Linked DNA regions of Homo sapiens. The protein of the gene in region 1 interacts with the protein of each later gene in a biochemical or structural test. Each region holds a gene or a part of one and is shown in the gene's direction. Other genes may lie near its edges.

Evidence for each region.
Region 2: of the proteins of MARK2 (region 1) and PKD1, one has a biochemical effect on the other in vitro, tested with the Homo sapiens proteins (one study listed by BioGRID).
Region 3: the proteins of MARK2 (region 1) and KIF13B form a complex in vitro, tested with the Homo sapiens proteins (one study listed by BioGRID).

The regions. Positions count from the first base shown.
Region 1 is NC_000011.10:63,897,971-63,901,760, forward strand, and holds part of MARK2 (serine/threonine-protein kinase MARK2), read left to right. Parts: intron 1-261; coding exon 262-310; intron 311-637; coding exon 638-703; intron 704-792; coding exon 793-863; intron 864-1,081; coding exon 1,082-1,138; intron 1,139-1,903; coding exon 1,904-2,140; intron 2,141-2,588; coding exon 2,589-2,708; intron 2,709-2,809; coding exon 2,810-2,909; intron 2,910-2,986; coding exon 2,987-3,099; intron 3,100-3,790. UniProt on the Homo sapiens protein: Serine/threonine-protein kinase. Involved in cell polarity and microtubule dynamics regulation. Phosphorylates CRTC2/TORC2, DCX, HDAC7, KIF13B, MAP2, MAP4 and RAB11FIP2. Phosphorylates the microtubule-associated protein MAPT/TAU.
Region 2 is NC_000016.10:2,088,208-2,090,958, reverse strand, and holds the end of PKD1 (polycystin-1 isoform 1 precursor), read left to right. Parts: coding exon 1-75; intron 76-150; coding exon 151-285; intron 286-368; coding exon 369-674; exon of another isoform or gene 675-764; coding exon 765-1,232; 3' UTR 1,233-2,251; downstream 2,252-2,751. Other genes in the region: TSC2 (tuberin), read right to left, coding at 2,349-2,513, 2,634-2,732. UniProt on the Homo sapiens protein: Component of a heteromeric calcium-permeable ion channel formed by PKD1 and PKD2 that is activated by interaction between PKD1 and a Wnt family member, such as WNT3A and WNT9B. Both PKD1 and PKD2 are required for channel activity.
Region 3 is NC_000008.11:29,074,292-29,078,081, reverse strand, and holds part of KIF13B (kinesin-like protein KIF13B), read left to right. Parts: intron 1-2,738; coding exon 2,739-2,801; intron 2,802-3,790. UniProt on the Homo sapiens protein: Involved in reorganization of the cortical cytoskeleton. Regulates axon formation by promoting the formation of extra axons. May be functionally important for the intracellular trafficking of MAGUKs and associated protein complexes.

The DNA.
Region 1 (3,790 bases):
GGATTTGGTAGACGCAGCAGAGGGCATGGCTGGCTCATCCTGATGCCATCCCGGGTAGCACGTCCCCACAGCCAGCCCTCCTCCAGCTTCCCCAACTTCCCAGCCACAGGGAAGGCCGTGCATGAGCTAGACAACCACCCTATTTTCTTTTCCCTGCCCGGTTTTGGTTTTTTGGGAAAAACAAATCCTGGCAGGGACTGTTTGGAGAGACCTGATGGGAGCAAGTTGGGCAGGCATGACCCCTGGTATTTTATCTTCCAGCTATTCCGCGAAGTAAGAATAATGAAGGTTTTGAATCATCCCAACATAGGTGAGCACAAGTTGTTATTTCTTTCTTCTTCCCCAACAGCAAGGCACTGCTTTCCAGCATGTCATCTTCTCCCCGAGGTGCACTGCCTTCTGGAGTCTGCAGTCTTCAAGGATACCCCTGGGGAAGCTCAGCTCAAAATCCATCTCCCCTTCTGGCACACTGGGCTGTCTTTAGCAGTTTGGCTGGCATGAGAGGAACTTGTTCTTGGGAGTGGGGGATCATGAAAGGAGGGGAGACTTTCGTTCCTAGGATGCTCCTGGACATGTTGGAGAGCAGTATGTGGCCCCTGTTGCTTCTTGACTTAAGGCTTGGCCTTTTCTCTTGTAGTTAAATTATTTGAAGTGATTGAGACTGAGAAAACGCTCTACCTTGTCATGGAGTACGCTAGTGGCGGTAGGTGTGGAACTGCCTCTTCCTGTTGTGCCCCCACTTCTTCCACCTCCAGCCAGCTCTGACTGAGATCCCTGCCTGGTCTCTTACAGGAGAGGTATTTGATTACCTAGTGGCTCATGGCAGGATGAAAGAAAAAGAGGCTCGAGCCAAATTCCGCCAGGTAGGTGTGACTCCCTCCATAGGAGCTAGGCCTGACCTCTGCTTTTGGGGTTTGACATGTAAGGATAAGCTGCCTGTCTGTAAGTGGCCCTTGGAGGGTACTTTGGGCTCTGCTTATCCGTGTGGCAGGTTAGCACTAAGTCACAGGGTCACTGCTCTGTCAGCCCCTGTGGCCCACCCTCAGGCACCCCTGGGTTAACCCTTCTTCCTTCCTTTCAGATAGTGTCTGCTGTGCAGTACTGTCACCAGAAGTTTATTGTCCATAGAGACTTAAAGGTAAGGCATGCACTTCTCCTTGTGCCTTTGAGTGGGAGCCAGGTTGTTGCCTCTTGGTTCTCCATGATAAAACCATCAATAACCATCAGGCCCTGAGTGTTCCAGGAAACTCCAGCCTTTCTTTTTTTCTTTCTTTCTTTCTTTTTTTTTTTTTGAGATGACCAGAAAGCCCCTAGGGCTGCCTCTGATAGAGGCCTTGTGGCTGGACCTCGGGTTCCATTCTAGCCCTTGAGCAGGGGCCCTCTGCCATTTCACCTCTTGGCACATCACCTTTTAGTGCTGCCAAGCAAGGCAGGCACACTCCAGGCTTTCTCAGTCTTTCAGGCAACCTGGTAGCTGACCCAGGGAAGAGTGCTGAAAGTTCCACAGCTGTATCCCAGCTGCTTTGCAGGCAGGCACACACATACCATCTCCATCACCAAGATACTCAAGTTTGAGGACACCTGTGGGTCTCTTGGCTGCTGAGTCCTCACAGACATGATTTGATTAACCTGGGCCTGATGCTGAAGCTTTGCACAGCTCACAGGGTCTCTGGGCCTTCAGATCCCATCTCTCCCATGGCTGCCCACGTGAGGAGTGGCCTGCATTGCCTTCCTCCTGCCCAGCCTATTCACGCTGATTGAAGCCCTGCCCTGAAATTGGTGGAGAAAGTTCTGAGACTGAAGATGACTTTCCGTTTGTTCTCCCATTCCCCTCAGCTCCTTCCTGCCCAGGGCCTTAGTCTGGTCCACTTGGTTCCCTGATGTTTTCCATCTTACCTCCCAGGCAGAAAACCTGCTCTTGGATGCTGATATGAACATCAAGATTGCAGACTTTGGCTTCAGCAATGAATTCACCTTTGGGAACAAGCTGGACACCTTCTGTGGCAGTCCCCCTTATGCTGCCCCAGAACTCTTCCAGGGCAAAAAATATGATGGACCCGAGGTGGATGTGTGGAGCCTAGGAGTTATCCTCTATACACTGGTCAGCGGATCCCTGCCTTTTGATGGACAGAACCTCAAGGTGGAGTGAAGTGCAAGCTTTTTATTGCTTCTCATTTCCTCTCGGCCTCTGGTCTTAGCCCTGACCTCCTGCCTTTGCCACCTGTCTACATTTGTCCCAAGCCAAAGCTTCAGAGAAGGGCTTGCTGAGGTAGCAGCAGTCAAAGGCCTTCTGCACCTGGGAATGAATAACCTCAGTTCCTTTCTCGAAAGATGGGATAAACTGTGTGTGTGTTCATCCCCCAAGGCACTCCGGATTGCAGGCCTCGGACTGGTCAAGTTAGAGGGTACGAGGGTATTTGACTTCACTTGCCTCTCTGGTGAGGTGTCTTGTCCCCAGGCTGTCTGCCTTCTTCCATATTTCATTTATGTCTGCTTTGCCAGGCTTAAGCTCTCAGGATCTTGGATATTAGGTTTCTTCCTTTGGCCTTGGGGTGATTTCAATTTTCTAACCCTGGATCCTCCTGCAGGAGCTGCGGGAACGGGTACTGAGGGGAAAATACCGTATTCCATTCTACATGTCCACGGACTGTGAAAACCTGCTTAAGAAATTTCTCATTCTTAATCCCAGCAAGAGAGGCACTTTAGAGGTGAGCAGTGGAGCCCAACTGGCGGAAGGGCCTGGGGTCCCCACAGAAACTTTCCAGCTGAGTTTCTTCCCCCTGCCCTTTTCCTTCTCTGTGCTCCCCAGCAAATCATGAAAGATCGATGGATGAATGTGGGTCACGAAGATGATGAACTAAAGCCTTACGTGGAGCCACTCCCTGACTACAAGGACCCCCGGCGGACAGGTGAGGCTGTGCCGGGCTGTGAGGTTAAGCTTGCCTAGGAGTTGAGGCCAGTCTTAACTGTATGTCCCCCTGTGCAGAGCTGATGGTGTCCATGGGTTATACACGGGAAGAGATCCAGGACTCGCTGGTGGGCCAGAGATACAACGAGGTGATGGCCACCTATCTGCTCCTGGGCTACAAGAGCTCCGAGGTGTGTGCTCCCCGCCCCATTCTCTGACCTGGCCAGCCTCACTGTCTGTAGCACCTATGCTTCTAACACCTGTTGAGGGCAGAAGCTCATCTCTGAGTAGGTGTGCTCTCTGCTCACCAATTTTAAGCCTCAGCTTTGGTGTCTAAGGTCCTCTGGCCCATTCACTGATCTCCATGAGTGAATTAATAGAAAGCTGGTAGGGTCGGTGTGGGACTGGGTCAGAGTTTCAATACGGGTGAGTTGATCTAGGTTAGTCTGCATTGATTAGATGTGTCTAGGTCATCGGCTAGCACTACTACATTGATCTAGATATCTTTGTGTCTCTTTTTGTATCTGGAAGTGTACATTTCTGGGTGTGTGTGTGTGTCTCTGTGTGTGTCTGATCGGAAGTTTGAGTCTGTTGCTTTTTTTTTTTTTTTTTTTTTTGAGACGGAATTTCGCTCTTGTTGCCCAGGCTGGAGTGCAATGGCAGGATCTTGGCTCACTGCAACCTCCGCCTCCCGGGTTCAAGCGATTCTCCTGCCTCAGCCTCCCAAGTAGCTGGGATTACAGGCATGTGCCACCATACCCGGCTATTGAGTCTGTTGCTTCTGTCTAGTGCTTTATGTTTGGGTGTGTGTATCTGTGTGTGTGTGTGTGTGTGTGTGTGTGTGTATGTGTCCGTCTTCCCGTCTGTGGATCTGGAGACTTT
Region 2 (2,751 bases), on another chromosome or scaffold:
TTCGACCAGGTGGCGCAGCTGAGCTCCGCAGCCCGTGGCCTGGCGGCCTCGCTGCTCTTCCTGCTTTTGGTCAAGGTGAGGGCTGGGCCGGTGGGCGCGGGGCTGGGCGCACACCCCAGGGCTGCAAGCAGACAGATTTCTCGTCCGCAGGCTGCCCAGCAGCTACGCTTCGTGCGCCAGTGGTCCGTCTTTGGCAAGACATTATGCCGAGCTCTGCCAGAGCTCCTGGGGGTCACCTTGGGCCTGGTGGTGCTCGGGGTAGCCTACGCCCAGCTGGCCATCCTGGTAGGTGACTGCGCGGCCGGGGAGGGCGTCTTAGCTCAGCTCAGCTCAGCTGTACGCCCTCACTGGTGTCGCCTTCCCCGCAGCTCGTGTCTTCCTGTGTGGACTCCCTCTGGAGCGTGGCCCAGGCCCTGTTGGTGCTGTGCCCTGGGACTGGGCTCTCTACCCTGTGTCCTGCCGAGTCCTGGCACCTGTCACCCCTGCTGTGTGTGGGGCTCTGGGCACTGCGGCTGTGGGGCGCCCTACGGCTGGGGGCTGTTATTCTCCGCTGGCGCTACCACGCCTTGCGTGGAGAGCTGTACCGGCCGGCCTGGGAGCCCCAGGACTACGAGATGGTGGAGTTGTTCCTGCGCAGGCTGCGCCTCTGGATGGGCCTCAGCAAGGTCAAGGAGGTGGGTACGGCCCAGTGGGGGGGAGAGGGACACGCCCTGGGCTCTGCCCAGGGTGCAGCCGGACTGACTGAGCCCCTGTGCCGCCCCCAGTTCCGCCACAAAGTCCGCTTTGAAGGGATGGAGCCGCTGCCCTCTCGCTCCTCCAGGGGCTCCAAGGTATCCCCGGATGTGCCCCCACCCAGCGCTGGCTCCGATGCCTCGCACCCCTCCACCTCCTCCAGCCAGCTGGATGGGCTGAGCGTGAGCCTGGGCCGGCTGGGGACAAGGTGTGAGCCTGAGCCCTCCCGCCTCCAAGCCGTGTTCGAGGCCCTGCTCACCCAGTTTGACCGACTCAACCAGGCCACAGAGGACGTCTACCAGCTGGAGCAGCAGCTGCACAGCCTGCAAGGCCGCAGGAGCAGCCGGGCGCCCGCCGGATCTTCCCGTGGCCCATCCCCGGGCCTGCGGCCAGCACTGCCCAGCCGCCTTGCCCGGGCCAGTCGGGGTGTGGACCTGGCCACTGGCCCCAGCAGGACACCCCTTCGGGCCAAGAACAAGGTCCACCCCAGCAGCACTTAGTCCTCCTTCCTGGCGGGGGTGGGCCGTGGAGTCGGAGTGGACACCGCTCAGTATTACTTTCTGCCGCTGTCAAGGCCGAGGGCCAGGCAGAATGGCTGCACGTAGGTTCCCCAGAGAGCAGGCAGGGGCATCTGTCTGTCTGTGGGCTTCAGCACTTTAAAGAGGCTGTGTGGCCAACCAGGACCCAGGGTCCCCTCCCCAGCTCCCTTGGGAAGGACACAGCAGTATTGGACGGTTTCTAGCCTCTGAGATGCTAATTTATTTCCCCGAGTCCTCAGGTACAGCGGGCTGTGCCCGGCCCCACCCCCTGGGCAGATGTCCCCCACTGCTAAGGCTGCTGGCTTCAGGGAGGGTTAGCCTGCACCGCCGCCACCCTGCCCCTAAGTTATTACCTCTCCAGTTCCTACCGTACTCCCTGCACCGTCTCACTGTGTGTCTCGTGTCAGTAATTTATATGGTGTTAAAATGTGTATATTTTTGTATGTCACTATTTTCACTAGGGCTGAGGGGCCTGCGCCCAGAGCTGGCCTCCCCCAACACCTGCTGCGCTTGGTAGGTGTGGTGGCGTTATGGCAGCCCGGCTGCTGCTTGGATGCGAGCTTGGCCTTGGGCCGGTGCTGGGGGCACAGCTGTCTGCCAGGCACTCTCATCACCCCAGAGGCCTTGTCATCCTCCCTTGCCCCAGGCCAGGTAGCAAGAGAGCAGCGCCCAGGCCTGCTGGCATCAGGTCTGGGCAAGTAGCAGGACTAGGCATGTCAGAGGACCCCAGGGTGGTTAGAGGAAAAGACTCCTCCTGGGGGCTGGCTCCCAGGGTGGAGGAAGGTGACTGTGTGTGTGTGTGTGTGCGCGCGCGCACGCGCGAGTGTGCTGTATGGCCCAGGCAGCCTCAAGGCCCTCGGAGCTGGCTGTGCCTGCTTCTGTGTACCACTTCTGTGGGCATGGCCGCTTCTAGAGCCTCGACACCCCCCCAACCCCCGCACCAAGCAGACAAAGTCAATAAAAGAGCTGTCTGACTGCAATCTGTGCCTCTATGTCTGTGCACTGGGGTCAGGACTTTATTTATTTCACTGACAGGCAATACCGTCCAAGGCCAGTGCAGGAGGGAGGGCCCCGGCCTCACACAAACTCGGTGAAGTCCTCCACCGAGGAGATGAGGCGCTTCCGCTGGCCCACCTCATAGCCAGGTGTGGGCTCGGCTGGAGTCTGTGCAGGGGCTTTGCTATGGGACGGAGGGTGCACCAGAGGTAGGCTGGGGTTGGAGTAGGCGGCTTCCTCGCAGATCTGAAGGCAGAGGCGGCTTGGGCAGTAAGTCTGGGAGGCGTGGCAACCGCTCTGCCCACACACCCGCCCCACAGCTTGGGCAGCCAGCACACCCCGCTGAGGGAGCCCCATATTCCCTACCCGCTGGCGGAGCCGCTTGATGTGGCGGAGCCGGGCAATCCACTTGGAGGGGTAGATATCGGTGGGGTTGGAGCGGCTATGATGCACCTGTGAGGCCATCTGGGGACGTAGGCAGGGG
Region 3 (3,790 bases), on another chromosome or scaffold:
CAAACTCCTGACCTCAGGTGATCCTCCTGCTGCGGCCTCCCAAACTGCTGGGATTATAGGCGTGAACCACCGTGCCTGGCCTCCTCTCTGCTTTTGAAGCTTCCACTCCACTGTCACCTTCCTTGATTTTAGTGATTTGCTTATGTGTTCCCCACCAATCAGGTTGCCCATCTGTTGAGAGCAAAGCCCATGCCTCTGATGCTGATGTTGCCTGAGGCACCTGGTGCCACGCCCCCCGCATGGTAGGACCTGGTGCAGTCTCTGTTGAGCTGAACTTTTTTACATGGAGAGTGAGAACCAAAGTGGCAGTCAGTCGAGTCCCTGAATCCATTTCAGCAAATATTTAATAAGCATCTATCTACTGGGTTTTTCTAATCACACTGGGTCCTGAAGGAAAGTGTAACTTGTTTGCATGTTCTATTTCAGAGGGCAGGAATCATGTGATTTTAGAAAAGGTTTCATGTTAGGCGCTTAACATCCCATCCTTGGGGTATTTGCATTTTTAGGCTTTAAGGGGAATAAACTTCACCTTTGTGGAAACAGTTGTTCCCCAATCTTGTCCACTTTAGGTAAGATGTAGTGAAGAATGCAAGTATTTTGGAGTTTGAGAAATGTTTTTTCTGCTTTTGTCATGAAATATACCCTTGAACACCTTCCCATTTGTGGGGACGTTAAATACTATAGGCAGAAAAATGAAGATACGAGCCCTGGCATGCGAGGACTGCGTGGCAGTGTGGGACGCGTGCTTGAGCCTCACTTTCTTCTCTGGGAGATGGCGGTAGGCGGGGCCGTGGAGAGCAGTAGTGGGACAGAAGGAGCTGAGTGCTGGGAGGGGCGCAGAGGGGAGACTGTTCTGGTCAAGGAATTGAGGTGGAGGCTGAAGGTCTTGTTCTTCAGGCCTTGTCATGTGCAATGGCCTAACTGCCACCAGGGGACCCTCCCTCATTCTGTCCCATTGGCTGCTCACATAATCTTTAATGCACCCTGGTCCTAGCTGTCCTGGGCCTCAGACCACCCCAGGAACTCCCTAGTGGTTGCAGTGTAAAGTACACATTCCTTTTGTTCATTTCCTTGGTCCTTCCACCTTATTTTCTTTTTTTCTTCTTTGACACAGGGTCTTGCTTTGTTGCCCAGGGTGGAGTGTGGTGGTGTGATCATAGCTCACTGCAGCCTCCAACTCCTGGGCTTAAGTGATTCTCCTGCCTCAGCCTCCTGAGGAGCTGGGACTGCAGGTGTGCACCACCACATCTGGCTCCAGTCCTTCCAGGTCTTTAAGCCTGATCGCTGCGTTTCCTCTCGAGTCCTCTCCACTGCACCTTTTCTCAAATCCTGCCAGTGCCCCCTTACCTTCTGTGGAATCAATTCCCTCTTATACTTTTCTTCCAAAAGCAGCCCCAAGGCACGAGTGGTCATAGTGGTGCCCTCAGGTGAAGCGAGGCTATTCCATGCTTGTAAACATGGTGAGCACCCTGCTGAGCGGGCTGGCTTCTTCGGGACTCTTCTCCCTACAGCTGGAGTCCAGGCTCCCCAGTAGGAAGGAAGGCCTGGGCGGTGTGGCTCGCGCCTGCAGGCTCTGTCTAGAAGGCCTGACTCCATCGAGGCCTCAAGTGCCCAGACGCACAAGAGCCAAAGCACCAGGACTGCCGAGGGCTGGGAGAAGGGAGGTGGGAGACGTGGAGTCCACATCTCTGGGCAGTTAAAGTTCAGTAACCGAGCAGCCACCAGCTGTGCCCTGTGGACCCAACAAGAAAGAAGCCCTACCCGCGGCTGTCCTGGCAGAATGGAGCCCTCATGAGAGCCCAGCATGGGAGGCCAGGCCTGGTTCCTGCAGTCGGGTAGGGGGAGGGGGAGGGGCAGAAGTGGCATGTTCCCAGCTTCTTCTGGGATGAGCACATCTGCTCGGCTGCTTCTGTGTCCCACAGCCACTCCGCAGCAACAGAATGATGCTCTGGTTCCTTCTCTCCCCGAGGCTTCCCTTTTCCTGGCTCTGATGATTCTTAACTCTGTCTCTTTAATGTTCCCTGGCCCATGTGTCCACAAGTAACCAGGCCCTTTCCTGTGGCTCTTACCTCCTCCCCCTGCTCTGTCACTGGAGTTGCATTACTGATCTGCCTCTTTGGACTTTAAATATTCTTCCGGTCATGTTGTGTCCCCACCCGGACAGTGTCTCTGGCCTTCAGCTGTCTTCTTGCTTTGCTCAGGACTCAGTGGGGACCCCCTTCCTCTCCTGAGTAGGGTTAGTTTCCGATGCCCAGGGCCTTCTGCAGACCTGTGCCTGCCATCTTGGGCTCTGGGTTTGTGCTCCAGCCAGCCTGGCCTCCTTCCTCCTCCCCTCCTGTGACTACACTCCTTCCTCTCCCCAGCCATCAGAGCCTGGCATGGCTTTCACCTCCTGCCGGAAGTCTTTCTGTATCTTTCCTGTCTCATAATGCTTGTCTGTACAGGCCCAGTCCTCGGTTCACATGTGCATATGTGATTGGAGGGAGGGAGAGAGCGTCGTGTGTGTAAGTGCACCATGTGTGTTGGTGATCTTGGCATGTGGCCTGTTTCCCTGGCTGGGGGAGGAGCCCCTTGCTGGGTCCCTTGTTCCTTGGAGGGTGTGGAGCCCCTCACACTCGCACACCTGATGGGCCGATTCCCCTCGGGCAGGTCCTGGCCCTCCAGCCTGTGCAGCGGAAACCTTTCTGCTACCCCTGTTCTGTCCTCTCGACCCCTGACCTGCACACTTGCCTCCTCAGCCCGTGCCCCGCATCATGGTGCAGTCAGCCAGCCCGGACATCAGGGTGACCAGGATGGAGGAGGTGAGTCTGTTGGGTCACGGGTGGCCACCCCACCTACAGCGAGCAGGTGGCCCTGATGCCGAAACTGTTGAGTCCACACCCACAGTTTTTGATGTTAGCATTCCTGTTTTGGTAATTAGTTATAATATAGGTCACTGCCTTCTCCCTCTCTATTTTCCTTGTTATACTTTTCTATTTTCAACTTGTTAATCATATGATTGCTAAACTTTTAGGTGCTTGACTGCTAATGTAGTCTGCTGCCTTAATAGCCCACAGCTAGGCAGAGGAGATTTCTATAAACAGAACAATCTCCTTCTTCTAAATGTTTGCTTAATTCTCAGTTTTACATTTCATTCTGATTCATGATATCAGCGTGAAAAGACGAATGCTAAGCTGTGGAGAAAATAGTCTCTTATAATCTCCCACAGATCAACAGCACTTCTAATCTTATGAATAGCAAATCTATTTTCTCCCACTGCGCTTTCATTCTCTTAGGAAATGCTGTATCTTCTTAGGAAAATTTTCTTTATTAAAACAACAGCAACAGAGGCACAATCATTAGAAAGAATATTCAGATCTCCGTGAATTTACTTCTATCTGAATGACCTTTTTACCCCAGTGCACACTGGGCATTCACGAATTTGCTGTGGCCGGGATCGGGGTGCCCCCTCCCCTGGGAATGGTGCCGGTCTCTTCTCTGAGGCAGGTTTGAGTGTCCCTGGTCAGCAGGATGGTCAGAGCAAGCCCCTTGCCAGTGAAGGCAGCAGCTTCTGTAGCTCATCATGGTGGTTTTCCAAGCTTGGGCTTTTGCAGAAGTCTCCAGAAATGTCTTCTTCAGTGGCAAGGGTATAATCCATAGATGGCATCTGGGTTTCAACTCACAAATCAACTCCAGTCAAGTGGGGATGGGGCCTGGAGTGCCAGTCTGTGCTTTCCACCATCCTGCTCCCTGCTTTGTTGACTCTGCAGCTCTGCCCCCAGTGCCTGCCTTTTCACTTAGTGCAGCCTTG